Homo sapiens: one gene and its partners. The protein of the gene in region 1 purifies or fractionates together with the protein of each later gene. This does not show direct contact. Each region holds a gene or a part of one and is shown in the gene's direction. Other genes may lie near its edges. The genes, in order: PPP6R2, ACSL3, PDGFRL, SLC25A16, MYO5B, SCCPDH and RAB40C.

What was found.
Region 2: the proteins of PPP6R2 (region 1) and ACSL3 purify together in Homo sapiens (affinity purification with mass spectrometry; one large-scale study listed by BioGRID and IntAct). This does not show direct contact.
Region 3: the proteins of PPP6R2 (region 1) and PDGFRL purify together in Homo sapiens (co-immunoprecipitation; one large-scale study listed by IntAct). This does not show direct contact.
Region 4: the proteins of PPP6R2 (region 1) and SLC25A16 purify together in Homo sapiens (affinity purification with mass spectrometry; 2 studies listed by BioGRID and IntAct, with this or other methods). This does not show direct contact.
Region 5: the proteins of PPP6R2 (region 1) and MYO5B purify together in Homo sapiens (affinity purification with mass spectrometry; 2 studies listed by BioGRID and IntAct, with this or other methods). This does not show direct contact.
Region 6: the proteins of PPP6R2 (region 1) and SCCPDH purify together in Homo sapiens (affinity purification with mass spectrometry; 2 studies listed by BioGRID and IntAct, with this or other methods). This does not show direct contact.
Region 7: the proteins of PPP6R2 (region 1) and RAB40C purify together in Homo sapiens (affinity purification with western blotting; one study listed by BioGRID). This does not show direct contact.

The regions. Positions count from the first base shown.
Region 1 is NC_000022.11:50,433,579-50,437,738, forward strand, and holds part of PPP6R2 (serine/threonine-protein phosphatase 6 regulatory subunit 2), read left to right. Parts: intron 1-1,387; coding exon 1,388-1,503; intron 1,504-2,788; coding exon 2,789-2,874; intron 2,875-3,409; coding exon 3,410-3,490; intron 3,491-3,927; coding exon 3,928-4,025; intron 4,026-4,160. UniProt on the Homo sapiens protein: Regulatory subunit of protein phosphatase 6 (PP6). May function as a scaffolding PP6 subunit. Involved in the PP6-mediated dephosphorylation of NFKBIE opposing its degradation in response to TNF-alpha.
Region 2 is NC_000002.12:222,863,678-222,867,837, forward strand, and holds part of ACSL3 (fatty acid CoA ligase Acsl3), read left to right. Parts: intron 1-4,160. UniProt on the Homo sapiens protein: Acyl-CoA synthetases (ACSL) activates long-chain fatty acids for both synthesis of cellular lipids, and degradation via beta-oxidation.
Region 3 is NC_000008.11:17,621,887-17,626,046, forward strand, and holds part of PDGFRL (platelet-derived growth factor receptor-like protein precursor), read left to right. Parts: intron 1-4,160.
Region 4 is NC_000010.11:68,482,524-68,486,023, reverse strand, and holds part of SLC25A16 (solute carrier family 25 member 16), read left to right. Parts: intron 1-2,407; coding exon of another isoform or gene 2,408-2,435; coding exon 2,436-2,592; 3' UTR 2,593-3,500. UniProt on the Homo sapiens protein: May be involved in the transport of coenzyme A in the mitochondrial matrix. Very little is known about the physiological function of this carrier.
Region 5 is NC_000018.10:49,834,604-49,838,763, reverse strand, and holds part of MYO5B (unconventional myosin-Vb), read left to right. Parts: intron 1-961; coding exon 962-1,247; intron 1,248-1,878; coding exon 1,879-2,053; intron 2,054-3,339; coding exon 3,340-3,420; intron 3,421-4,160. UniProt on the Homo sapiens protein: May be involved in vesicular trafficking via its association with the CART complex. The CART complex is necessary for efficient transferrin receptor recycling but not for EGFR degradation.
Region 6 is NC_000001.11:246,730,592-246,734,751, forward strand, and holds part of SCCPDH (saccharopine dehydrogenase-like oxidoreductase), read left to right. Parts: intron 1-4,160.
Region 7 is NC_000016.10:620,872-625,031, forward strand, and holds part of RAB40C (ras-related protein Rab-40C), read left to right. Parts: intron 1-4,160. UniProt on the Homo sapiens protein: RAB40C small GTPase acts as substrate-recognition component of the ECS(RAB40C) E3 ubiquitin ligase complex which mediates the ubiquitination and subsequent proteasomal degradation of target proteins.

The DNA.
Region 1 (4,160 bases):
AGGTGAACCTGGAGGAGGGCCGGGGGCATGGATGCTGGGCAGGGGCCGGGCATTTGCTCTGGAGGTGAACCTGGAGGAGGGCCGGGGGCATGGATGCTGGGCAGGGGCCGGGCATTTGCTCTGGAGGTGAACCTGGAGGAGGGCCGGGGGCGCGGACGCTGGGCAGGGGCCAGGCATTTGCCCTGGAGGTGAACCTGGAGGAGGGCCGGGGGCATGGATGCTGGGCAGGGGCCGGGCATTTGCCCTGGAGGTGAACCTGGAGGAGGGCCGGGGGCATGGATGCTGGGCAGGGGCCGGGCATTTGCTCTGGAGGTGAACCTGGAGGAGGGCCGGGGGCGCAGACGCTGGGCAGGGGCCGGGCATTTGCTCTGGAGGTGAACCTGGAGGAGGGCCGGGGGCATGGATGCTGGGCAGGGGCCGGGCATTTGCTCTGGAGGTGAACCTGGAGGAGGGCCGGGGGCGCGGACGCTGGGCAGGGGCCGGGCATTTGCCCTGGAGGTGAACCTGGAGGAGGGCCGGGGGCATGGATGCTGGGCAGGGGCCGGGCATTTGCTCTGGAGGTGAACCTGGAGGAGGGCCGGGGGCGCAGACGCTGGGCAGGGGCTGGGCATTTGCTCTGGAGGTGAACCTGGAGGAGGGCTGGGGGCATGGATGCTGGGCAGGGGCCGGGCACTTGCCCTGGAGGTGAACCTGGAGGAGGGCCGGGGGCATGGATGCTGGGCAGGGGCCGGGCATTTGCTCTGGAGGTGAACCTGGAGGAGGGCCGGGGGCATGGATGCTGGGCAGGGGCCGGGCATTTGCCCTGGAGGTGAACCTGGAGGAGGGCCGGGGGCGCGGACGCTGGGCAGGGGCCGGGCATTTGCTCTGGAGGTGAACCTGGAGGAGGGCCGGGGGATGGATGCTGGGCAGGGGCCGGGCATTTGCCCTGGAGGTGAACCTGGAGGAGGGCCGGGGGCGCGGACGCTGGGCAGGGGCCGGGCATTTGCCCTGGAGGTGAACCTGGAGGAGGGCCGGGGGCATGGATGCTGGGCAGGGGCCGGGCATTTGCTCTGGAGGAGGGCCGGGGGCATGGATGCTGGGCAGGGGCCGGGCACTTGCCCTGGAGGTGAACCTGGAGGAGGGCCGGGTGCGCGGACACTGGGCAGGGGCCGGGCACTTGCCCTGGAGGTGAACCTGGAGGAGGGCCGGGGGCATGGATGCTGGGCAGGGGCCGGGCATTTGCTCTGGAGGTGAACCTGGAGGAGGGCCGGGGGCGCGGACACTGGGCAGGGGCCGGGCACTTGCTCTCCGAAGTGAACCTGGAGGCCTCTGCCACTTGGCTCTCTGGGTCGTGGGTCTGGCAAGGTCGGGGCCAGGAGGCCGCCCCGATGGTGCCTGTTGCTTTCAGGGCAGCGGGTGGCATGAGACGTGGGAACATGGGCCACCTCACACGGATCGCCAACGCGGTGGTGCAGAACCTGGAGCGGGGCCCTGTGCAGACGCACATCAGCGAGGTCATCCGAGGTGAGCCCCCAACCCGGTCATCCTTCTGCTGGTCGCGGGCACCGGGACCCCGAAGGAGCTGCCGCCTGAGACTAAGCTCTGCCCGGCAGCAGGTGCTGACTGCACTGACAGTGAGAGACCCATGGCCACCTCTGTCCTCTCACTTCACACATCACATCTCTCCTCGTGGGGGCCTGGGTCTCATGTGTCAGTTCTATTGGGCGGACTTCTGTGGAGACCCTGCCAGGCGTCAGCGTGTGGCACAAGAGACAGTCCCTCCCGGGGTAGTTGGTGACTCCGGAGCTGGCACTCAGAAGCCGTTAGCGCCACCGGGCTCCTTGCAGCTCAGGGAGCCCTGCCTGGCTAGGCTGTCCTGGCTGTGTGCTCTGCACTCAGGTGATTGGAGAGTCTCATTCTCACTCAGGTGTGAGATTTCGTAGCACAAGTCTCAGGGGAGCAGGTTGCAGCCTGTTTCTTAAGAACGCAGTGGGTTAGGTGGGCGCAGGCACAGCACATGTGTGGCAGAGGCGGGCCCAGCTGTGGCCTCTCCTCCCTATACCCGTGTAAGGTGAGGAAGCTCTGGATAGTCCTCCCCGCACCCCAGGACCATAGTGAGGGGACTCCTGGGTTGGGCTCCATTAGCCCCTGGCGAGGTCAGGCCTGCCGGCTGCCATCACAAATAATAAAAGCAGGGCAGGAGGAGCTTCCCCACATCCTGGAGGGCAAAGTAGATGGGTGGAGGTGGAGGCCAGGGACAGCTCCCCAGGGCAGGGGCAGTTTAAGGAGGCGAGGGGCAAGCAGGAAGCTGTTGGATCATTCCATACGATCTCCAGATTGTGAATCCTTCCAGGACTCTGACCTCCCCGGAAAAACAGGCAGGACACGCGCCCAGGCCTGTAGGCTGCTGCTGAGTTTGGGCCTGTGAGGTGGGGGGAAGGAAGCTGGCTGCTTTCTCAGATTCTGTTCCACGGCTTCTGCGTTTCTGGGAGTTCCTCAGAATGGGCTTCCACCCAACAGACTTGGAACTCAGATGCCCACTGGGGTTTCGGTAGGGGCAGAAGTGCCCACCACCCTGCCCACAGGTGCTGCACCTCAATCTCACTGTGGCCCCAGGCCCCTCCGGACACGCGGCTATGCTGCCTCTTTCTCATCCGGCAAAGCCCCTGCTTCAGGCCCTCAGACGGGCTGACCACAGTAGCAGCGCCCCATCCTCCCGGACCCAGGATGCACCTGCCGGAGCCCCCGGGTGCCCTGCACCATCTGCACGGGGTCTCCCAGGGCTCACCAGGCAGCACTTCCCTTGCAGGGCTCCCTGCGGACTGCCGTGGCCGCTGGGAGAGCTTCGTGGAGGAGACGCTGACGGAGACGAACCGCAGGAACACTGTGGACCTGGTGAGGAGGCTCGGGGCTGCCCCCTCGGTGCACGCACGGTGCTGGGACGCCGTCAGACGCTCCTGCCTTTGCCCTGAGGCAGAGGCCAAGGGAGGCACAAGGGCCGCACGCCTGCCTGCTCCTCTTGACTATGCGGTGCCCCTGCATAGTGTGTCCTCCGGGCTGATGTCCGTAACAGAGACCCCGTCCTGTGCCACACCCAGGGCTGGGTCTCTGAGGACCTCTGTGCAGAGCCGGTGTTGGCCTCAGGTCCCTTTCCTCCCACTCCAGGAGCTGTAGCTTGTTGGCAGAGGGCTCCTTTTGCCTGAGACCCACAACCTGCCCCCTGCACATGGAGGTCGGGCTGTCACGGGGCCTTGGCCTCACCTAGGCACCTCCTTACACAGCACGGCCTCCTGGGCCCAGAGATCTGATGAGTGATGTGCTGGGTGGGGTCTGGGAGCCCTGGGCTGGGCATGGTCCTGGGCGCTGGGCTGGGTGGGGTCTGGGGCGCTGGGCTGGCTCACACGCCCACCCCATCTGGCCTGTGTTTTAGGTGAGCACTCACCACCTTCACTCCTCAAGTGAGGACGAGGACATTGAGGGTGCTTTCCCTAACGAGCTGTCCCTTCAGCAGGTGAGGGCGTGGCCGGCACCTGCACCCTGCCGGGCCCTTCCCGGCACCTGTGTGCGCTGCGCTTGGTCCTCCAGACGAGTCTGATGGCATCTCACTAGCAAAGGGGAGCGGGGGCTCGTCTCCGAGCACGTATGGGGCGGGGTGGGTCTGAAGGGAGAACCCCAAAGTCACTCCACCTTGATGAGAGCACTGAGGACACGGCAGATGGACTCGAAAGTCAGAGAATATGGGGCGTATCTCAGATGTGACCGCAGCGAGCGCGCAGCCTGAGTTTTGGTAGAATCGTGAGCCCTGAACAGAGTTTACTGCCCACTTGTGCTGGAGGAGAAGCTCCCGAACAACTAGAGAGATTGTGGTTCCCAAAGAGCAGCCTCCAGGCCTGATGCCTCCTCCATGACCGGTGTCTGTCCGTCCCTCCCTCCCTCCCTCCCTCCCAGGCCTTCTCTGACTACCAGATCCAGCAGATGACAGCCAACTTCGTGGATCAGTTTGGCTTCAATGATGAGGAGTTTGCCGACCAGGACGACAACATCAAGTGAGTCTACTTGGAGCGCACTCTGCACGAGGCGCGGCTCTCCCTGCTGCTGAGCTCCCGTGGAGGCAGCTCCCTGAGGTCTTGCCGGGAGTGCCGTCTGATGTCCCCGGGAGACAGCAGGTGTTCCCAGTTGTG
Region 2 (4,160 bases), on another chromosome or scaffold:
ATCCATTGTAGCATACGCTTCACAGGGTCATTTAACTTAAAAGTCTCATCATCTTAGGAGATCATTTTTTGATGGCTGGATTGGGAAATATAGATTGTTAAAAATATATAAATGTCTCAGTTGAACATGTATGAAGCCAATTCAAATAATACATTGCAATATATTTACTTAATGGCCATCTGCATGCAAAACACCGTCCTAGGGGTACCATGTGGCATAAATAAAAAAGATGAACTTGCCAAAGTTACTGCTTTCAAAGAGATTTCAGTTAATGTATACTAATACTCAAATTTAAGGTTTTTTTTTTTCAAAGTGCTAGCATATCTCATCTGATCCTTTTAAGAGCCATATATGATAAACAGAAATACTGAGAAAATGGAGATAAAAAATTGTCAGGATATGGTGATAAATAGTAAATGGAGTGGGAGAAAGAGGTGCTAAGTGATTACTAGGTTTCAGACCTATGCAACTAAAGAGGTATGTGTGCTATTCACTGAGCTGGGGCTTAACTGGTAGAGAACTAGGTTCTGGATATGGGAAGGGCATGACTTTAGTTTTGGAAGTGTTCAGCTGGAGCTGCCTTTGAGGCCTTTATTGAGGTACTGGTTTTGTGCTGAGAATTGGGGTGGCCATTTACCGTTTTGAAGACCTCCATGTAGAGGCAAGAGCTCAAACCATGGGTATGGGTGAGATTGCCTGTGGGGAGGCTATAGAATAAGAAGAGAAGGAGGCCTGGGATGGAGCTGGGCAGAGGAGGTTGAGCTTGTCAAGGAGACAAGAGTGGCCAGGAAGGTCAGAGGACAGCCAGAAACAGATGTTCCTGCAAGGCGATGAGTCAGTACTGTGGAATGCTCCTATGAGAGAAGAATTGAGAACCATCATTGAATTTAGCAACATGGAGGTCACTGGTGACCTTTGAAAGAGATGCTGATCTGCAGGTAGGGGTGGGATGGGGAGCAGTGGGAGGTGAGGAAAACGGAGACAGAAACTGTTTCCAATAGGTTTGATTTCAGCATGTTTAAATGCTGATGGGAAGGCTCAGTGGAGAGGGAGTGGTTGAATATAGACTAGAAAAGGGTTTGTGCAGAGTTCCTAAAAGGATGGGGTTGGGATGGGACCCAAAGTACAACTGAGGCCTGTGTCTTTGCTGGGAGGAGGGGACACCTTCCACAGTAACAGAATACAGGCCTGTAACCTATGGAGTACTAAGCAAATGCCAAAAATTGTCAAGAACTGTTAAATTTCTAAAAATTAGCCCAATTTTAGTTGACTCATGACAGTCTTTTAGAAAACTTTGTTGCAAGAGCATTGTGTGATTGATTTAAAATGTGGCTCAGTCTTAATTTCATCCCTCAATAGAGTATATATTTTCATCTGACTTTTGATTGTAATTTATTTATTTTCTGAAAAAGGAGACATTGTAAATGTTAAATCCTGTGGTGCCTTCCTTACATGTTTATTTTTGGTTTCATTAGAAAAAAGCTTTCAGACGGTTTCTGTTTTCCTGACATCATAGGTGCCTTAATTCTTTTAATTTAAAGTTTAGCTTCTGTTATTATTGGAATATGTTTATTTACGTATTTTTGATGTTTCCCATTTTGAAGGGTAAAGAATTGGATGATTCAGTAGTTTCAACTGATCTGCTAATTTTTGTTTAGAATTGAAGATACTTAAATAACCAACCTTTTGGATAAGTGGCCTCCAAATACAGCTTTCTGCTTGTTTGTGAAGGTATTTGTTATTAAGGATTCATTCATTCATGTATTTACTTAGTGTCTGTTTTGCAAGGTACTCGGAATTTGGAAATGATTGGGCGAGTTCCTGCTCTTAAGGAGCTCACAGTTCACCACAGGAAAGAGGTGTATGAACAAATTACAGCATGGTGGAACAGAAGAAGGTATATGAGCAAATATATTACAGGATGGTATAATCAGTGCAGCAGTGGAATCTGCTAGGAAATAGAGAAAAAGTGCAGAGCAGGCACAGAGTAGGGAAGGAAAAGGGGAGACTTCTCAGTGGAGATGATAGCTGAACTAGGTTTTCCAAGATGAACTGGAGTTTTCCCAGGTCAACAGGGAGCCAGGAAATAGAATGTTTTACCTTGATTTTGGATCCTCTGTGTGTGTGTGTGTGTGTGTGTGTGTGTGTACACAGATGTGTACGCATTGGAGATGTTATAACGCTACCAAAGAATATTGTTAGAAAAATTAAAAATTGCTTATCTTACTATCCTCATGTTGATTGCTCTAGCTGTGAAAAGCTGCACATTTTCCCCTGTCCTGTCATGGTCAACTTTTCTGTCTCCTATTTGATGCAGAAAGTAACTGAACTTAATTATATTATTTGGATACAAAGCCTAGTTTTTGTTTTTCTAAATGAATGGTCTTTGGAATAAGGATAATAGCCAACACCTTTATAGTATACTGTGGCCAAATGCTGTTCTAATTTTTATCTCAGCCTTGCAAAATAGGTACTTTTTTTTTTTTGAGACGGAGTCTCGCTCTGTCCCCCTGGCTGGAGTGCAGTGGCATGATCTCGGCTCACTGTAAGCTCCGCTTCCCGGGTTCACGCCATTCTCCTGCCTCAGCCTCCTGAGTAGCTGGGACTACAGGTGCCCACCACCATGCCCGGCTAATTTTTTGTATTTTCGGTAGAGATGGGGTTTCACCATGTTAGTCAGGATGGTCTTGATCTTCTGACCTTGTGATCCGCCCGCCTCGCCCTCCCAAAGTACTGGGATTACAGGCTGGGAGCTACTGCGCTGACTGCAAAATAGGTTCTTTTATCATTCTAATTTTTACAGCTGAGGAAACTGAAGCACAGAGCAATTTAAGTGACTTGCACGATTGTGTGCTAAATGTGTGCTGGATTTCATCCCAGGCACTTTGGTTCCAGAGTCCCTGTTCTTAACCTGGGCGCTGCATCTCCTCTCTGGAGTGACAGTTTGAAGTTCATGTTAACCTTTGAAGGCATGATTGTGTAGGGAAAGGAGCTGTGATGACATTTAGGGGCAGTTTTATGTCTGTTTTAATTACACAAAGTTGCTGCCCCAAATAAAACTGCCCTGCCCCCCCCGCCCCCCCCCCCCCCCCCCCCCCCCGCCCCGGGGAAATCATAAGGAAATTGAGAGAATTTAACTAGAATTTTCTTTTTTTTCTTTTTCTTTTTTTTTTTTGAGACAGAGTCTTGCTCTGTCACCTATGCTGGAGTGCAGTGGTGTGATCTCTGCTCACTGCAACCTCCGCCTCCCGGGTTCAAGCAATTCTCCTGCCGCAGCCTCCCGAGGAGCTGGAATTACAAGTACCCACCACCACACTCGGCTAATTTTTGTATTTTTGGTAGAGATGGGGTTTCACCATGTTGGCCAGGCTGGTCTCTAACTCCTGACCTCGTGATCTGCCCATCTCAGCCTCCCAAAGTACTGGGATTGCAGATGTGAACCACCATGCCCGGCCTAGAATTTTCTTTTTGGACTTGAACATAATTCCTCAGGATGCTTTCCCCTTTAACCTTACTTCGCAGGAATTGTTATTGACTTTTTAGATTGGAATATAAAGGAATTTGGGATCCCATAGTCTGCTAATTCCATTTTCTTTTCCTGTCTTTTAACTAAAATATTGACGCACTTTCTGTATGTTTGAAAAATATTTCATAAAATTTAATCCACTTAAAGAAACCCACTCCTTTCCCCCAAATCTTACAGCTAACCACTGCTCTGAATTTGGTGTTTATTATTCCTATGTATTTCTGTACAGCTTTATTACACATGTGTGTTTCCTTAGACAGTGTATAGTATTGTTTTGTGTATTCTTAAACTTTATATAGATGGTACTGCATGTATTCTTGTTCAGCATACTGTTTATTTTATCCCCACTCAAAATCACTTAGCAGTGTGGTTTCATGAATTGAGTTTCAACTCAATTCATCAGTGTGGGTTCATGTAGATTTAGGTCATTTATTTTTACTGTGACAAGTTAGTACATTTTAGGTCTATACCATATTTATTTCCCCTTTGCTCTCTTGATAGACTTTTAGGCTGTTTCCATTTTTTTTGTTATTACAAACATTATTACCGTTAAGTATTATTGAACACAAGTCTTTGTTTTAATTTTTGACACTGTAGTTAACCTGTGCTCCTTTTTCTCTGTTCTTCACATTTT
Region 3 (4,160 bases), on another chromosome or scaffold:
GGTCTCGAACTCCTGAACTCAAGCTATCCTCCTGCTTCGGTCTCCCAAATTGCTGTAGTTACAGGCATGAGCCATTCTGCTCAGCCCTGTTTGTTCTTGTGAATACTATGAGCTGAGATTTCGGGGGCAAGATTCCCAAAGATTGTGGCTGTTGTGTCTCCAGTCCCTGTCCCTAAGCCTCAGTGGACTGCCTCAAAATGTTCAGGTCAGAGTGGAGAACTCTTCTCTGCAGTGCAAAGTATGTTTCTGGAAGATGGAGCTTGCATTTTGAGAAACACGTGTGCAGAATAACTGCTCAGCCTCTTTCTTCTGTAATGTTCTCTAAGTTCTGAAGTTTAGGGGATGAAGTTCTCCAGCAAGGTTCAGAAGTCAGTAAGAGCTTTCAGGAATCTTACAAAGCCACCCTCGTCCTATTGTCGTCCAAGACATTTCAGGTGAAACCAGAATCCTTTGTTAGTGCCTGGGCAGGGACTTTCATGAAATTTCTCCATGCCTTGAATCCACCTACCTTTCAGACGTAGACCTAGACATAGGCCTAGACCTAGACATAGGCCTATGACCCAAAGGATGTTATGCCCTGACCATTAAAGAATGTTTTAGTACAATCTTATGTATTTGTCCTTTCCTGCCCAAATAGCTCCTCTCTGGCAAGGAGATGCATTAGTAGGGTATGCTGCAGTTCTGGAAGCACATGTATCTCATTTTGATGCAGACTTTTTACTCCTTAGTTCAGAGATCCAAGTTCTTGTCTCATGCCAGGAAAACTTAGGCACACAGACACTTAAAAGAGTGCGTGGAGTAGAATTTATTATGCGAAAAGGAAAGCTCTCAGCAAAAAGAGGGGTCCTGAAAGCAGGTTGCAGGTTGCTCTCCACACAATTGAATACAAGGGCTTCTATGTTCCCTCGGTAGGGCTGGGTTCCCTGTTTGTAAGAGGCGTGAATTCCTGGCGGCTCCACCCCATCCTTTCAGTGTACCTGCAGGCCCTTAATCTGAGTCACTCCACGTTGATTTATTTCCCTTACTGCATGTGTGTTAAGGGATGGAATTTTTCACTGGGGGTATGTTTAGGCAAGACCCCTGTGCACAATGACCTTGGTAGGTCAGAGGTTCTCTAAGGACATTCCCGTATCTGCTTAGGAGAGTTCTCTGCCTCCTGCCTCTATCAGTTTCATTCCACAACATCCCTGGGAAATAAGCAAAAGCTATTTTATTATCTCCAAAATACTAGAAGTACTAATGCTCATGCTGAGCCTCAATGTTCCAGGACCTGTAGTGGCACAATAAGGAGCCAAACCTGTTTTTCTGACCCAGGATCCAGTGTTTTTACTGCCTTGAACCTTTTGTAGGACAAGGTGAAGGATGGACTGATAGCCAGATTCTAGCTAGCATAACTGGTGTTGTCAGGAGAATTGCTAATAATTGTTCATAGGCAATCTCTTTGGATCTTCATTTTGGAACTCGCTACACAAGATTGTAAATGTGCCCTTTGTATTATACCATGCTGTGAAGCAACAGTGGAAAAAGCAACCAACTAAGATGAATAAAAGTCTGTTATTCAAGTCAATGACTGATTCCACATTTCAAGTTGCAGAAGGAAGATTCTTTGCCAAGATTAGCACTGTTGTGTCTTCCCAAAGTATTGGTCGAGGTTTTGAACTGCAGGCTTAGCTTGGGCAGAATATCCTATTAATATTATGGGCTCTTGGCCAGGCATGGTAGCTCATACCTGTAATCCAGCACTTTGGGAGGCCACGGCGGGCGGATCACCTGAGGTCAGGAGTTCGAGAACAGCCTGGCCAACATGGAGAAATCCCATCTCTACAAAAATACAAAAGTTAGCTGGGCGTGGTGGTGCACAGTTGTGCTCCCAGCTGCTCAGGAGGCTGAAGCAGGAGGATCGCCTGAATCTCGGAGTTGGTGGTTGCAGTGAGTCAAGATTGCGCCACTGCACTCCAACCTGGGCGACAGAGCAAGACTTTACCTCAAAAAAAAAAAATACGGGCTCTCTTTGAGTTTTGGAGGCGGAACCTTTTTGTTTTTTTTTTAACTGAACTAATTTTGGGAACCAAAGAAAAGCTAAAATATATTCATTCCAACTATCAAGAAACTTTGATCAAAAAAAATAAATGCTGTAACACATTTGACCTAATGTGTTATACATCATTTATTTTTTCTTATTTGTCAACACTAAGCTAGGAGTCCAGTTGGATTTTTACTATAGGGTTTGGCAATTTGTCTTTTCAAGCATGGATGGCTTTGAGAAACCAAGATGGGCTGTTACAGAAGCTGAGGTTCTCACTGCTGGCTCAGGATTCTTTCAGAACATGTGTTTCCTGGCTACCCATGTGGAGAAATGTTTGTCATTCATTATGTTTGTATGTTTCCTAGAGTTTGATTAAAAACACTGAAGCTTCTTTTGGGGGACTGACTGTTGTTAGTGTGCAGTTTGTGATTAAATAATTGCCGTATGTATTTCCTCTTTCATCTTGATCCAGGAGGATCTTGGAAGGTTTTCCCTGCTTCTCTTTCACTTCTTATTGTAGTATAACATATGTAAAGAAAAACATTCAAATTCTCAGAATACAGCTCAATAAATTATCCTTAAGCAAACAGGCACATGTAACTCCCACCCAGATCAAGGATGAGAACATTACCAGCAGCAGAGCTTTCTCATAGTAAAAGGCTGAGGCTCTAATTTTTATACGTAGGAAAACCACATTAATAAGTACTTTCCTGGCTGGGTGCAGTGGCTCATGCCTATAATCCCCTAGCACTTTGGGAAGCCGAGGCAGGCGGATCACTTGAGGTCAGGAGTTCAAGACCAGCCTAACCAACATGGCGAAACTCCCTCTGTACTAAAATGCAAAAATTAGGTGGGCATGGTGGCACACGCCTGTAATTCCAGCTACTCGGGAGGCTGAGGCACAAGAATTGCTTACACCCAGGAGGCAGCGAGTCAAAGTTGCAGTGAGCCGAGATGGCACCACTGCATTCCAGCCTGGGTGACGGAGTGAGACTGTCTCAAAATACTGAATTTGTTGTAATTTGGATTTAGTTTATAGCTTGTTAACTTGCATTTATTTATTTTTTTATTTTTATTTTTATTTATTATTATTATACTTTAAGTTTTAGGGTACATGTGCACAATGTGCAGGTTAGTTACATATGTATACATGTGCCATGCTGGTGTGCTGCACCCATTAACTCGTCATTTAGCATTAGGTATATCTCCTAAAGCTATCCCTCCCCCCCCCGCATTTTTTTGTTTTTTTGTCTTTTTTGAGATGGAGTCTCCCTCTGTTGCCAGATTGGAGTGCAGTGGCACCATCTCAGCTCACTGCAACCTCCGACTCCCCGGTTCGAGCGATTCTCCTGCCTCAGCCTCCCGAGTAGCTGGGATTACAGGCATGCGCCACAGTGCCCAACGAATCTTTGTATTTTTAGCAGAGATGGGGTTTCACCATGTTGTCCAGGAGGGTCTCGGTCTCCTGACCTCATGATCCGCCTGCCTTGGCCTCCCAAAGTGCCGGGATTACAGGCGTGAGCCACTGCACCTGGTCGAGTTTTTTTTTTTAATCTAAAATCCCATGTGTTTAGTTTTCTTTAAGTAAAACATTTGTCTTCTAGATAAGTGGATATAAATACATTTGCAGGGGACATGTGTAATCTATAATTATTAAAACAAACTTCAACACTTTGTTATTGTTGATGGAAGCTACGGATTGCAAATATATTTTTAAAGCAACTGGTTTGGTCACATTTCAAAGTATGTATTATAGTATAAGAAGTAAAGTATATATTATAGTATAAGAAGTAAGGCTGGGAACATTGGCTCATGCCTGTAATCTCAGCACTTTGGGAGGCCAAGGCAGGAGGACTGCTTGAGTCCAGGAGTTTGAGACCAGCCTGGGCAACATAGTGAGACCCTGACTCTAGAAAAACTAAAAAATAAAAAATTAGACAGGCATGGTGGCACGTGCCTGTAGTCCCAGCTACTCAGGAGGCTGAGGTGGGAGGATCATTTGAGCCCTGGAGGTTGAAACTGCAGTAAGTCATGATGGTGCCACTGCACTCCAGCCTGGGCAACAGCGTGAGACCCTGTCTCAAAAAATAAAAATACAAGAAGATATTTTTGTGTTCTTAAATTCACACGGTTC
Region 4 (3,500 bases), on another chromosome or scaffold:
CTGGTCTGGTACTCCTGGCTAACATGGTGAAATCCCGTCTCTAGTAAAAATACAAAAAATTAGCCGGGTGTGGTGGCAGGCACCTGTAGTCCCAGCTACTCGGGAGGCTGAGGCAGGAGAATCGTGTGAACCCAGGAGGCGGAGCTTGCAGTGAGCCGAGATCGCACCACTGCACTCCAGCCTGGGCGATAGAGTGAGACTCCATCTCAAAAAAAAAAAAAAAAATATTGCTTAGGAGGCTGAGGCACGATAATTGCTTGAACCCAGGAGGCAAAGAGCTGAGATGGCGCCACTGTACTCCAGCCTAGGTGACAGAGTGAGACTCTGAAAAAAACAAAAAAGGCCTGTCGCAGTGGCTCACGCCTATAATCCCAGCACTTTGGGAGGCAGAGGTGGGTGGATCATGAGGTCAGGAGTTCAAGACCAACCTGGCCAAGATGGTGAAACCTGTCTCTACTAAAAATACAAAAAAAATTAGCTGGGCTGGTGGCAGGTGCCTGTCATACCAGCTACTCAGGAGGCTGAGGCAGGGAATTGCTTGAACCTGGGAGGCGGAGGTTGCAGTTAGCCAAGATCATGCCACTGCACTCCAGCCTGGGCGACAGAGCGAGACTCTGTCTAAAAAAGAAAAAGGGCTGGGACGCGGTGGCTCACACCTGTAATCCCAGCACTTTGGGAGGCTGACGCGGGAGGATCACAAGGTCAGGAGATCAAGACCATCCTGGTCAACATGGTGAAACCCCATCTCTACTAAAAATACAAAAAAATTAGCTGGGTGTGGCGGTGTGCGCCTGTAGTCCCAGATACTCTGGAAGCTGAGGCACAAGAATCACTTGAGCCCAGGAGACGGAGGTTGCAGTGAGCCGAGATCGTGCTACTGCACTCCAGCCTGGCAGCGAGGCTGCGTGTCAATAAAAAAGAAAAGAAAAAGAAGAAAAAATATATATATAATTGTTAAAAATATTTTTTGTTTAACCTAAACTTTTATCACCTCAACATTTCATTATTTTGTTTCTTTTTTTTAAATACAAACTATTTGAAATCCAGGGTGTATTTTACACTCACAGCACGTCTTGATTTGGACTGCCACATTTCAAGTGCTTAATAGCCATATGTGGCTAGTGGCTGCTGTGATTGTATAGCACAGCTCCAGAGTTTTCTTTATAGTAATTTAGAACCATTCCATTTGATTGGTGATATGTTGTCTCTCAGGGGAAGAGCAGAACATTTGTTCATGAATTTGGATTGCCGTGTTCACCCAAAAGATTTTTTGGGCTGGGAGCATTACCCTGTGCTTGTTGTATCCAGCTACTTGAGAGGCTGAGGTGGGAGGTTCACTTGAGGCCAGGAGTTTGAGATCAGCTTGGAAAACATTGTAAGACCTTGGCTCTAAAAAAATTTTTTTTAACTAAAAACAAACAAACAAAAAATTTAGTGAGGCATGGTGGTGTGTGCCTGTAGTCTCAGCTACTGAAGAGGCTGAGGTGGGAGGATTGCTTGTGCCCAGGAGTTGGAGGCTGTTGTGAGCTATGATTGCCACTGCACTCCAGCCTAGGCAACAGAGTGAGAACCTGTCTCTTAAAAAAAAAAAAAAAAAAAGATTTTTGAAAAGATTTCGGTCCAGATTGCCTATTGAAAGGGAAAGCCCAAGCCCAAATTATTGGTTTGAAAGGAAAGGAACAACTCTGAAACAGGAAAGTGTTCATTGCTGAAATCTGAAAGATAGTCCTTCAAGCTTTAGTTCTATAACCACCTGCTGTTGATACTATACAACTTGAGCTATAATAAAGGCTTAAAGGGCAACTGGATATACATCCTTTAAAAGGATTGCATTAGTATTTCAAATATAAGTATGAAATAGTTGTTGTCCAGTAAATGTCATAGACATAGTACAAACAAAATATGTTGTACTAATGAGTCCTGAAATTTGATGCATAATGCTTGTACTTGTTTAGAATGACTTGCCTTTTTATTATGAAAAAATTTTCACTTGTTAAAACATTTGTCTTTCTAAAGCTATTCAAGATGGCATTTAACCTTCTTTAAAAATTAATATTATGGGCCGAGCGAGGTGGCTTATGTCTGTAATCCCAGCACTTTGGGAGGCCAAGGTGGGTGGATCACCTGAGGTCAGGAGTTTGAGACTGGCCTGGGCAACATGGAGAAACCCCGTCTCTACTAAAAATTACAAAAATTAGCTGGGCATGGTGGCGCGTGCCTGTAATCCCAGCTACTCAGGAGACTGAAGCAGGAGAATCACTTGAACCTGGGAGGCAGAGGCTGCAGTGAGCCAAGATCATGCCACTGCAATCCACACTCCCATCTGGGTGACAGAGCAAGAGTCCATCTCAAAAAAACAAAATTGATATTATGGATCCTGAAATTGTTTCTTCATGAGTGGGCATAGAGGTCATCATTTAATCATTGTCTTTCAGTACCATGCGGGATACTATGAAGTATGTCTATGGACACCATGGAATTCGAAAAGGACTCTATCGTGGTTTATCTCTTAATTACATTCGCTGTATTCCCTCTCAAGCAGTGGCTTTTACAACATACGAACTTATGAAGCAGTTTTTTCACCTCAACTAAAAAAAAATTATGGTTGGTTTTTCTTAATACATTCTCAGAGGGAGAAATGAAACATTACTATAATTGTGGGGGGAACATTACTTGAATGGGGATATTTACCCTGTCACAAGAGCCACTGGTATTTTAGTACTTGATTATTTTTTCTTTAGTCACAAATCAGAACTGCTTACCATACTTTTTGATGCCAAACATTATACCTTAGAACATTGAAGAAAATATTCCTAAGCTGATGCTGGCTAAACCGCTTTAAAGTTTTATTTGGAAGTAGAACTAGCTTTAAAACGGGGTTCAAGAGGTTGCCATTAGCTTTGTCATGCTGTTCAAAGTTTTTAATTGTTATCATGGTTTTTAAAAGACTGACAGTGTTTATTATTATTAAAATAAACAGGGTTGGTTATATTGCAATAGAATAATGAGAATTGAATTTTTAAGTTCTATGAAACAGCCAGCATTGACATTTTATTTTTGTTATCTCTCTTCTCACAATTATGCTCCACTGGATAATAGGAAAAACACTTCTTTCCTTCATTTTTTAAATAAAATTAATGTTGTATTTAAAAGGTAGCCATGTAGAGACACAAAAATAAATGAAGAAGCTGGACATGGTGGGATGGGCATGTGGTCCCAGCTACTCTGGAAGCTGAGGTGAGAGGATCACTTGAGCCCTGGAATTCCATGCCAGCCTATGCAACATCATGAAACCCCACTTAATAAATGAATGAACGACTAAGTCTTGCTCAAATGTTATTATGAGGTACTATGAGTGACTTACATGTGTTTTAAAATGTCAGTGTGTTTCCCAGAGGCAGAAATAAAAATACTGAATATCTTTGCTCTTAAAAAAAAAGTAACACTATAGATTTGTTTTTGTTAGATGATTTGCTCTATAGTAGAATATTTAAGTAGAC
Region 5 (4,160 bases), on another chromosome or scaffold:
ACAGCAGTCGGCACGATGCATCAGTATTTATTAGACACTTGCTTTGAACCAAGCAGTGTACTTGGGCACTGAACATGAAATCAGAATTGAGAAATGAGAGCAGTTACATTTTCAATCGGAAGAAAAATTATGTGTAGATGCATTACTCACTGTGCTCTGCAAAGGCTGGGAAGGAAAGTGTACCTGGACCTATTCATAATGCTTTCCCCAGGTTCTTACAACACAAGTAGGTTATGAGTGAATCCCAAGAAGGACCAATCTAGAAATACATTACTTGAAATGAGGTTCATTCCAAACCCTCCTTCCTGTCTGGAAATCTTTTTATAAGGCACCAGACAGAGGGAGAACTGACATATCAAGCTGGAGATACTCAGAATAATGTGAAGGTTAATAGCAGCAGTTCTGGAGTCAGACAGACTTGGGTTTAAATCCTGGCCCTGCCACTCCCTATCAGTGTGACCTCAGACAAGTTATTTAACCGCTTTATACCTCAACTTCCTCATAAAAATGGGTAGTACTTTATAGAGTTGTTGGAAGATTGAAAGAGATACTGAACATAAAGCCCCTGGTGCATAGGTAATGGCTGCTTAGTAAGTATGACGGACCAATGAAGCTCTTATTTACATAGTCAGTGGCTGGACGAGGATGACACCCAGGTTGCTCAATTCTCAAACTGTGGACTTCAGCACAGGCGATACCAAATCGAGCTGGTACATGCCCATCATCTTTGTCTAATTGCCAGTAAATTAAATGAAAATGCTGTCCACAGCTGTTTTATTCCATACAGAAATCAACACATTAGAAATTTTTTGCCAAATGTTATAAGTTCCTAAGCATGTCAACATTGCACACCTCTGGATGGTATCATTGCTAAAGCCCGGAGCACTAAATGATTTGAGTGGTCCAATCTTTGCATTGTTAGTGGGGAATGCAAGCTTCTCTAACTGTGCTTTTATTTCAGTTTCTGCCATGTTGGAAAATGAGAGCATTCAGGGTCTATCTGGTGTGAAGCCCACCGGCTACCGGAAGCGCTCCTCCAGCATGGCAGATGGGGATAACTCATACTGCCTGGAAGCTATCATCCGCCAGATGAATGCCTTTCATACAGTCATGTGTGACCAGGGCTTGGACCCTGAGATCATCCTGCAGGTATTCAAACAGCTCTTCTACATGATCAACGCAGTGACTCTTAACAACCTGCTCTTGCGGAAGGACGTCTGCTCTTGGAGCACAGGCATGCAACTCAGGTAAGGGAGGAGCACCCCCCAACAACACAGATAGAGTGGGCCCTCACTGACTGCAGCTAGAATCAGAACACAAGACTGCTGTTTCTAAAAATGAAATCCAAATCTAATTGACAGTCCTTGTCTCCATCAGTCTGTGACTCAAATCCATCACCTTTTTACCTGTTGGTGAAATCCGTCGAACACTGAGATGGTTGACTTGGTAAACAAATTAGTTCAAAGCTTAAAGATGTTGACATACTCTAAGTTAAAGACTGAATACAAAGCAGATAGGTCAGAGAGAAAACTCAATGAGTTAAGAGGCATGAAGGCTCACATAGAAGTATAAATACATTTGTGAATGTTAAATATAAATACTTACAATTCAGTATATTTAATGCCTGTTTTTCCCTGTTAACTTATGTAGACACTTCAGGTATTTCATCTTTGCTTGATTTTAAGTACCCACTCATTCATTTATTCATTCTTTATTCAACAAATAGTTCCTGAGTGCAAGGCACTTGCCATGCTTTTTAACCGTGTGAGATAAATAATGGCACTAGCTGCAGCGGGCCTGCAAAACACAACAGGTGTCCCCTTCTCAGTGAATTAGGAGGACCGGCTTAACATAGCTTGCTTTCTACCTATGGCTAAGGTACAATATAAGTCAGCTTGAGGAGTGGCTTCGGGGAAGAAACCTTCACCAGAGTGGAGCAGTTCAGACCATGGAACCTCTGATCCAAGCAGCCCAGCTCCTGCAATTAAAGAAGAAAACCCAGGAGGACGCAGAGGCTATCTGCTCCCTGTGTACCTCCCTCAGCACCCAGCAGGTACAGTCACTTTGCACCTCTGTCAACATGGTATTCCAAGGAAGCCCTGAGTCCATTCCAAGTCTGTTCTCGTTGGTGGTTATTTGTTAGTGTTGCACTCCCACCCTTTATATACCCCTAATGAGACAATTTTGAAGTGCAGCTGATGGGATATTCCTAGATGAACCAAAAACCATTTGGTCTGTGAAACAAGATGCCACAGATACTGTTTTCTAGTAACTCTCTATCCCTCTTACTCACTTAAAAAGATAAGGTAGCAAACTCACAAAACGTTAAGTTTAGGTAAAAACTTCTTTAAATATAATGAATTCTGGAATGTTTCTTACATAGAAATCCACAAATTTTCAGAAATTGGCAGCATCAGGTATTTGCTTTCTTTACAAATATAACTGTAAGAAAAACCTTTTCTTTAAAACTAATTGCAATATGGTCATATTTTCACTCACACTCATTTATATTGTTTTAAATGAAGTCATTAAGAACTTAGGGGCATTTAAGTGTTACTTTCCTTTTCCCTAAAAAATGTATAACCATGATTCAGTTGCCGACACATTGCCAGTCCCTGAAAGATAAATAACAAAATCCAAACTCAGTACAGAAAAACACATCTTAATATAGCAAAGTGAACACCTTTCCTTACCTCCTCTGCTTACTATTAAAATATTAAATATCTAACTCTTTAAAAAACTGCTTCCTTCTGTAAACATTTCCAGAAAGTCTTCAAACATTTTTCTTCTCTTTAAATACATTTCACTTAAAGTAAGTTTCCTTCTAGATGCAGCTGGCATTGCATTTGGGCAGTCTACTTCCACCAAACCAGTGGTAGGCAGACAAAAGAGTATCTCCTGTTCAAATACTCATTTGTAAACAATGTTGGGGGACAGGGGGTAGTTAGGTATTAAACAAGACCTTTCTCATCTAAGGTAAGATCTCCAGTACTCTTCAGAAGAAACCTTTAAATTACTAGTAGATATGAGGCTGAGGATTTCAGGCAACTGCATTCTAAACTCCTCATTGTGTATACCAATGAGCATAGTGGGGAGGGGCAGGTGGGTTTACAGGAGACATGAGTTCGGTGAGAGGGCTCAGATCCACCTGACAAAGCTGTGGGCTCTAGTTTCCTGGATGCAGGCTCCAAGTGTAAATGTCAGTCCAGCTCCATCTGTGTTGTGGGCCTTGTCTAAAGAGGATCATACTCTTGTACCAATGTCACATATTCTTTAAAGTTCAAAAGTTGTCTCATGTTCATTTAGCTCTGTGCTAAATTCCGTTTTTATCCCCAACAGATTGTCAAAATTTTAAACCTTTATACTCCCCTGAATGAATTTGAAGAACGGGTAACAGTGGCCTTTATACGAACAATCCAGGTGAGTTTTAAGATAGTAATTTTATAAAGTCCAGTCTACGACTATAAAGGAAATTAAAAATTTGGGCTTTAATCTTGCTTCTCTTTATTACTAAAATACTGGTTACATATATGCTGGGAGACCTTACATTCCTAGACTTTCTACTTAGGTAAACATGAACCGTATCACCCATGAGTAACTTACTGTTTACACACAGAAAACTCAACTTTTATCATCTCTGCCTCTCAGATTATAGACATAGTTTAAGCATTATGTCATTTGCCACTAGCATGTTACTGAACTATTAGCACCAAATGGAATTAACAATGTCAGCAGAATATCAGCCCTAACCATAAATGGAACTAAGAAATGTTCTTTAAAGAAAGCAATTTGAGCTCTTAAATCTTTGTCTAAGACTTATAATATAGGCCAGGTGCGGTGGCTCACTCCTGTAATCCCAGCACTTTGGGAGGCCGAGGTGGGTGGATCACGAGGTCAGGAGATCAAGACCATCCTGGCTAACACGGTGAAACCCGGTCTCTACTAAAAATACAAAAAATTAGCCGGGCGTGGTGGTGGGCGCCTGTAGTCCCAGCTACTCGGGAGGCTGAGGCAGGAGAATGGCGTGAACCTGGGAGGCGGAGCTTGCAGTGAGCCGAGATTGCGCCACTGAACTCCAGCCTGGGCGACAGAGTGAGACTCTTGTCTCAAAAAAAAAAGACAATATTTGCTTTTAGGAAAATGCTTGAAAGAAAATGTAT
Region 6 (4,160 bases), on another chromosome or scaffold:
AACATGGCCCAGGGAATGTCTCGTAGTCAGTCCATATAGTAACCGTTAACGGAACGTCATGTTTTTGTAAACATTAACATGGATAAAAGTTCTGATATTTACTTCCACCCTCAGTGGATCATTCTGCGCTTCCCTTAGGGGAAGACTACTTGGGAGACCACTGGGTTAGAAGATGGAACTTTGAGGGCCAGGCGCGGTGGGTCATGCCTGGAATCCCAAACCTCTGGGAGGCTGAGGTGGGCAGATCACTTGAGGTCGGGAGTTTGAGACCAGCCTGGCCAACATGGTGAAACCCTGTCTCTACTAAAAATACAAAAAATTAGCTGGGCATGGTGGTACACACTTGTAATTGCAGCTACTCGGGAGGCTGACGCAAGAGAATCACTTGAATCCGGGAGGCGGAGGTTACAGTGAGCTGAGATTGCGCCATTGTATTCAAGCCTGGGCAGCAAGAATGAAACTCCAGCTCAAAAAGAAAAAAGAAGAAGATGAGACATGGAGAGCAGGATTGCGGTTCTGACCTTTGAGCCAATTGGCCTCACAGGGGAGAAGTGTCTCCCCGAGATGAAGGATTGCTACTCTGACTGTTCACCTGTCTCAGACAAGCACAGGGTACTAAGTGGAGAAAAATCTAGCAAGTTCATAAAATAGGAATAAGTTAGTGAGAAGTCTCAACTCCAGATTACTCAAAGAAGTGGGCCAGATGTGACAAAATGCAGTAAAAGTAAGGAATGGGCAGACTGGCAAATAGGAAAATGCGTTTTCTTTCCAGAAGGAGCTACGATTATTTTAATAAGCTCATTAATACTTCACTGCAGCCTGCCAGTACTCATAGATACACTGCCTAGCTGATGGGCTCACTAGCCAGACATGAGAAGTGAGCCTGTGGCTGTAAGGCAGAGCCTGGAGGAGCTGGGAGTTGGCCCAGCAGAATGAAGGGAGGGTGCTCCAGGTAGTGGAAGCAAGCACACTGGGTGTGAAGAAGCAGCATGCTTGGGGAATTACATGGAATTTAGAACTGCTGGAACATGAGAATTAAGGGGCTGTGGTATGATATGATACTAAGGACTTTCTGTGACATGCTAAGAAATTTGGACTTTGTACTATATACTGTAGGGATTTTTTTGTTTTTGTTATTTTTATTTAAGTTCTAGGGTACATGTGCACAACATGCAGGCTCGTTACATAGGTATACATGTGCCATGCTGGCCTGCTGCACCCATCAACCCGTCATTTACATTAGGTATTTCTCTCAATGCTATCCCTACCCCTGCCCCCCACCCCACGACAGGCCCCAGTGTATGATGTTCCCCACCCTGTGTCCAAGTGTTCTCATTGTTCAGTTCCCACCTGTGAGTGAGATCATGCGGTATTTGGTTTTCTGTCCTTGTGATAGTTTGCTCAGAATGATGGTTTCCAGCTTCATCCATGTCCCTGCAAAGGACATGAACTCATCCTTTTTTATGCCTGTATAGTATTCCATGGTGTATATGTGCCACGTTTTCTTAATCCAGTCTATCAGATTTGAAGAGTGGATATGTTATAGGAGTGAGGCAGGAGGAAAGGTGACATCACATTTTTATTTTAGAATAACAATTTGTTATGTATTTGGAGATGGGGCTAGCTGGCTGCAGTATAACCAGTTAGGGCCTATTTATAGTAAATTAGATGAGTGTTGACAGGGTCTGAACTAAGATATAATTGTGCAGGGGAGAGGAGACTGATTTGAGATAATTTTAGGAAACTGAATTGATAAAACTTGGTGACTTCCAGGATAGGTAGCATGAAAGACTGCTTCCAGATTTTTTTTTTTTTGAGGCGGTTCTTGCTCTGTCACCCAGGCGGAAATGCAGTGGTGCGATCTAGGCTCACTGCAACCTCCACCTCCCGGGTTCAAGCAATTCTCCTGTCTCAGCCTCCTGAGTAGCTGGAACTACAGGCTCATGCCGCCACACCTAGCTAATTTTTATATTTTTAGTCGAGACAGGGTTTTACCAAATTGGTCAGGCTAGTCTTGAACTCCTGACCTCAGGTGATCCACCTGCCTCGGCCTCCCAAAGTGCTGGGATTACAGGCATGAGCCACCACACCCAGCCTGCTTCCAGGTTTTAACCTGAGAATTATGTGGGGAGTAATGCCATTAAATAAAAAAAAGAAGCCATCTGAGTACCATGTGCCTGGCCCCACACTAAGCTCTTTGTATTCTCTTATTTCATCCTCACAACTACCCAGGGAAGTGAGTGTTGTTATTCATCACCATTCTTTGATTGAAGAGGTTGATGCTTAGAGAGGTAAAGTGACTTGCCCAGGGTCACACAGCTAGTGGCTGCAGAGCCTGGATGTAAGTGTGGCCTGACTTAAAGCCCACACTCTAGACCACTCTGCTGTTCAGCCATTTGCTCAGTTTTGTCTCAGAGTCTTCCCTCTTTTGAGCACAACAGAAAGATGTTAGAAGTGGGACCCAGGCAGGCTGAACTAGAGGCTATACTTTGTTTTTTATTTTTATTTTTTTGAGATGGGGGTCTCACTTTGTTGCCCAGGCTGGAGTAGAGTGGCACGAACACAGCTCACTGCTGCCTCAACCTCCTGGGCTCAAGGGATCTTCCAGCCTCAGCCCTGAAAGTAGCTGGGACTATAGACTGGTGCTATCACATCTGGCTAATTTTTGTATTTTTTGTAGAGACAGGGTTTTGCCCTGTTGCCCAGGCTGGTCTCTAGCTCTTGAGCTCAAGTGATTCACTCACCTTGGCCTCCCAAAGTGTTGGGATTACAGACGTGAGCCACTGTGCCTGGCCATGTGTTTATATATATATGCCATATATATATAGTCCTTATATGTATAATATATATATATAATAAGTATATGGCCTCTATATATAGTCCGTAGCATCATATTTTATACACACACACACACACACACACTTTTTTTCTTAGAGAAATGGGGTCTCAAAGCGATCCTTCTGCCTCAGCCTCCCAAAGTGCTGAGATTACAGGTTTGAGCCACCACACCTGGCCTAGAGGCTACACATTGAAGCACGTGCTAGGAAGTGGAGGAGGAGAAATAGGTTTAGAGAGAGAGATGATGAATTCGGTTTTAGACTTGTTGAAATTGAGGTGTCTGCTAGATACCTTGCATCAAGACAGAAAATACAAATAATATACTGTTTGTATATGATGTTTTATAAGTAAGTGAGAAAATCAGGGGGAAGAGAAAATAAAAGGAAAATGTAGGCAAAGTGAAATTAGTTTTATGTGTGACTCATGCTACATGTCCTGTGCTCTCACTGGTCCTGACCTTTCTAACAAAAAACAGAGGGAAATCCTATCAGTGAGCAACTCTAGACATAGAGGTTGGAGGTCACAGCACAGATTTTATTGAAGTTGGGAGAGTAGGTGAGATTTCCTGGGAGAATGTCTGGGGCAGTGATTCTCCATCTTTGAAGTACACAAGAATCACCTGTGAGGCTTATTTACAATGCAAGTTACTGGAGTCTACCTCAGAAAGCCTGATTCTGGGGGTCTGGAGTGGGAGTGAGTGACCAGCATGCAACCCAGGTGATTCTAAAGCAGGTGGACTCATGGCCAACTTGAGAAATTTGGGGGTGAAATAACTTAAGAACAAGGCCGAGAAAGCTCCAAATGAGTTTTAAAATGGATGTGTGCAAACCCTAAGGATCAACCAGGATAATCCACTGGGTGCAGAAAGCATATGGAGCTTCAACTTCTGTTTTAATCTCAACTTTAGTTCTATTTAAATATGTTTAAAATGTGTGTTTTATTCATTTGGTAGGCAATTTAAGTGATTTATAAGTAAATTCATATAGTTAGTAGGTGATGGATTCCAGGTGTGAACTTGGGTCTTACTGCCTTGAAATCCTTTGTTCCATGATACCATACTGCCTCAGAAGTAGAGTTCTTCATTAATTTCATGTGGTTTGTTAATGGGAGGGTAGGAACTCGAATTTCACACACTTCTCCCAGTCCTGTAATTCCAGTGTTATCCGCCATTCTTAGTAAGAGGTGTGAGGTCTTGGAGTTAGGTAAGAGGGCAGCCCATCTGACCTATTTGTAAAGGTCGATTGTGTCTTTTAAGTGTCCCTTGTTCCTCAAAGGCTGGAAGAAAGAAACGATTTCCTTGTTCCATCTTTTGCTGCCAGGAA
Region 7 (4,160 bases), on another chromosome or scaffold:
CAGGGAGGTCTGTGGGACACGAGGCCAGTACAGTCGTGATTTCTGTTCAGCTGCATGAGAACTAAAAAAGAAAAAAGCAGTTCATAAGCTCTGCATTTGCCAGGCTGAGGTCCTGGAAAGCAAGCTCTGTTATCATCTCCGTGTTCTTTCCAAAGCATCTGGCACAACTGGTTATGTCTTTGTTTTGTCTTGTTAACTCTGGAAATTCTGAGCTGTCATTTTCCACATGCGAGGAGCAGGTTACAGACCCAGGTGCACATGTTGGTCCTGGGTTGAGGGTGCCAGGTGCTTCCTTGCCCCGGGAGAAGCACCTGAGTCTCCAGGCGGGCCTCTGACCGCCGTGACTGAGCATTTGGGCCACCCCGGGAGCCCAGCCCTGTCCTGTGTCTCTCCTGCCTGGTGAGCAGCGGTGAGGTGCGGGTGCATCCAGCCGAGGTGCAGAGCCCAGGTTTGCAGCAGGGTTTCTCCCGCCGCCCCTGATGAGACACAGACTAGCAAGGACTGTCTGTCCCAGCCGGGATTTGTCACTCTGCCTCCCTCCGTTAGAGAGTGGAGAGGCCTGGAAGGTCCCCGCGGCCTGGGTCTTGCAGATGGCACCAGCAAAGGCCACCGGCCACTCCCCGCTGCCGTCACCTGTCACACAGCAGCAGTCCCGCGGCTCTTCCCGCGAGGCCCTTCACGTGCCGCCGAAGGCCGGGCTCCCTAGACTTCATGGTCGTGTTTGCATATTCTGTTGCTGTGATCTGAGACGGCCCCTCTCAGAAGCGGGTGCCACAACCCGCTGGTGGGATGAGTGGGTCACCCAGGTGCAGGTCCCTTGGTGTGTGGAGGGTGGGGTAGGCTCCTTGTAACTGCAGTGTGGCTGACGGGATGTGCCATCCTGTTTAGCTGAGAATTTGGGGTCAGCGGGCTTAGTGCCAGGAAGGCTGTGGCCAAGTGCCATGTCTGCTTCAGGACAAAGGTGTGGATTTGTTTCCCTGAGAGGGGGTTTATGTGGAGCGTGGTACGGGAGGCACACGTGCTGCTGGCTTGTCGGCACACAGGTGGGCGGGTGGATGTGAGTGGGCGCGGCTTGGCAGTAGCTCCCATTTTACATGTCAGTTGCTCCTGGGCAGAGCCTGGGTGCAGGGATGCAGGAGGAGGGCTTCACTCTCGCTGGCTGTACCTTGGGAGCTTCAGCCACATGGGTGGAAGGGGCATGTGTTTGTCAAAATTCATCAAAATGTTCAAACCTCGGATCTTTGTATTTTGTGCTTTGTAAGTTACAGCTCAGTAAAAAATGATAGCAAAAAGGACACCCACTCTTAGGCCCAGCAGTTCTACTTCTGGGAATTTATCGTGTAGGTCGAGTTGATCAAAAAAAGGTGTAAACGTGCTCAGATGCATATTGCCACCGTTACCCAAGAGCTGGCGCAGTACCAGTTCACGAGCAGGCGGGGGTGCTGGGCCTGAGCTCAGGGCGTGCGGGTGGGAGCAGCGCCAAGTGCCTCCACCCCCTTGACCCCGCCCGCGAGGCATGAGCGGCACCGTGGACACGTCTGTAGACGCTGAGGAAACTGACTGTCAGGGCGGCTCCTAGAGGGGCCTAGAGCAGGGCGAGCGCGCGTCCTGACTCATCCCCTAGAGCACTCGCTCGTTCTTTTGTTTTGTTTTTTGAGACACGGTCTGGCTCTGTCGCCAGGCTGGAGTGCCGTGGCGCGATCTCGGCTCACTGCAACCTCCGCCTCCCGGGTTCACGCCATTCTCCTGCCTCAGGCTCCCGAGTAGCTAGAACTAGGTGTGCACCACCGCGTCCAGCTAATTTTTGTATTTTTAGTAGAGACGGGGTTTCACCATGTTGGCCAGGATGGTCTCCATCTCTTGACCTCGTGATCCGCCTGCCTCGGCCTCCCAAAGTGCTGGGATCGCAGGCGTGAGCCACGGCGCCTGGCCGAAGTCGCTAGTTTTTTAAAAATCAGATCAGTTTTAGAAAACAGAAGGCAGTGGAAGAGTCTGTTTGTCCCGTGCTCTGCCCCTTGAGACACGCAGCTGAGGGTGCTTAGGGTGCCGTTCGTTAGGCGGCTGCTGGTCACCGAGAGTCTCCTTTTGGTTTCTCACTCCGTGGTCATTTGGGTCCCTGCGGCCTCACTGTGACCCACGCCGGAGCAAGCCTCCGGGTCCTCCTGTGCCATCGCCCCTGCCCGTAACCCCTACTCCTCAGACATGGCCATCCCAGGAAGTGGGGGCCCGCTCAGGGCAGCAGCCGGGAGGTGTGGCCAGGGCCCCCCGCGTCACAGCACACTTGGAGCCTGAGGCAGCCCATCAGCCGGGAGGCGGGCCTTCTGCTCTCTTTCTAGAGTTTTCAGTGTCATGCGAATAGGGGTGTTTGCCACAGAAAACAGGTCAGCATCAAAAGTTACCCCTCTCCAGCCTTTTAGCATTTGTTTTATGTCCATATAAACTTCTTCAGTGTAATGTGTTGTGTGTTCATACTTTTATTTTTTAAAAATCATGCTGGGCCGGGCGCGGTGGCTCACGCCTGTCATCCCAGCACTTTGGGAGGCCGAGGTGGGCAGATCGGGAGGTCAGGAGATCAAGACCATCCTGGCTAACACGGTGAAACCCTGTCTCTACTAAAAAAAAATACAAAAAAATTAGCCGGGCATGGTGGCGGGCGCCTGTAGTCCCAGCTACTCAGGAGACTGAGGCAGGAGAATGGCGTGAACCCGGAAGCGGAGATCGTGCGGCTGCACTCCAGCCTGGGCGACAGAGTGAGACTCCGTCTCAAAAAAAAAAAAAAAAGAAATCATGCTGGGCTGGGCACAGTGGCTCACACCTCTGATCCCAGCACTTTAGGAAGTTGAGGCAGGAGGATCACTTGAGGCCAGGGGTTCAAGACCAGCCTGGGCAACATAGCAAGATCCCATCTCTAAAAAATGTTTAAAAAAACTTAGCCAGATGTGGTGGTTCACACCTGTATTCCCAGCCACTCAGGAAGCTGAGGCTCAGAATATCAGGCTGCAGTGAGCCATGATCGTGCCACTGCATGAACCCCAGCCTGGCTGACAGAGTGAGACCCTGTTTCAAAAAAAAAGAAAATGCCATCCGCAGTGCTGGGACCTGCGTTCTTACCTCACCTGGGTTGCACATCTCTCCTTGGCCAGCATGCACGCTTTTACATGCACTGCTGCTGTCTTCAGCATCTGCACGGTACATTTCACTGCCGCTTACTCAGCTGTCCCCTGAGGCTGGACATTTAATTTGTGTCTGGCTTGTCGTTGTTATCAGCGCCACTGTGACACACATCCTCAGTTACTTCTGAGTTGTGGGCTTGCCATGCGGGAGGTTGCCATGCGGGAGGTTGCCACTAGGGAGAGTGGGCTGTGTTGTACGCTTTGGTGGCCCACTCCCCAGTCTCTCCACCTCCCCCAGCAGCAAATGAGCCAGCCCCAGTCCCTGTGCCCCAACCTCCAGGGTTAACCCCTGGGTGTGCATTTGTTTATTCTGAATCTTATCATTTATCGCCCACCAGACTGACTTGGCCATCTCTGGCCTCGAAGGGTCTCCCTCAGCGAGAGGTGTCCTTCCTGAGCTGTCGCTCCATCCTGAGCAAGGCCTTCGCCCTGGGAGCTTAGTAATGTCAACCTTGTTCTAAACAGGACCTGGGGCTACACTTCAGTCTTCCAGATATCGAAAGATGGTTCTAAGAGGCTCTAAAAACCCTAATTTTCAGATGGACAGTGCCCTCTTCTTTCAGCCTCAGCCTCTTGTGTGATAGGCTCTTCCATTACGTGAAGGTTTTGTCAGCCTAGGAGTAGGGTGGATCACAGCTCATTGGCTGGATCTGGTTGCAGAATTGTAGGGTGGGAGTGGACGTTGGGGAGAGGCGGGCATAGGGGAATGGGCCTGTGATGTCACCGTTTCGCCCGACAGGGCTCTGAGTGTGAGCAGTGTGCTCCCCTGTGCTGCTGGAGAGCCATGACTGTCACTGCCGAGATATTTAGGGCAGGTGGAAACAGCCCAGAGCTGAGCTCCAAGTAATTGGTCTCTAAGGGATGTGGCAAAAAGTCCCCGTGGCAAAACCTGCTCTGCCTGGCTGGGGGAGCTTCACAGAAACTGTCCTGGAGGGACTGGCATTCTGCTCTGCAAGTTTTAGGTTGGAAAACTCAGAAATGCCCCCA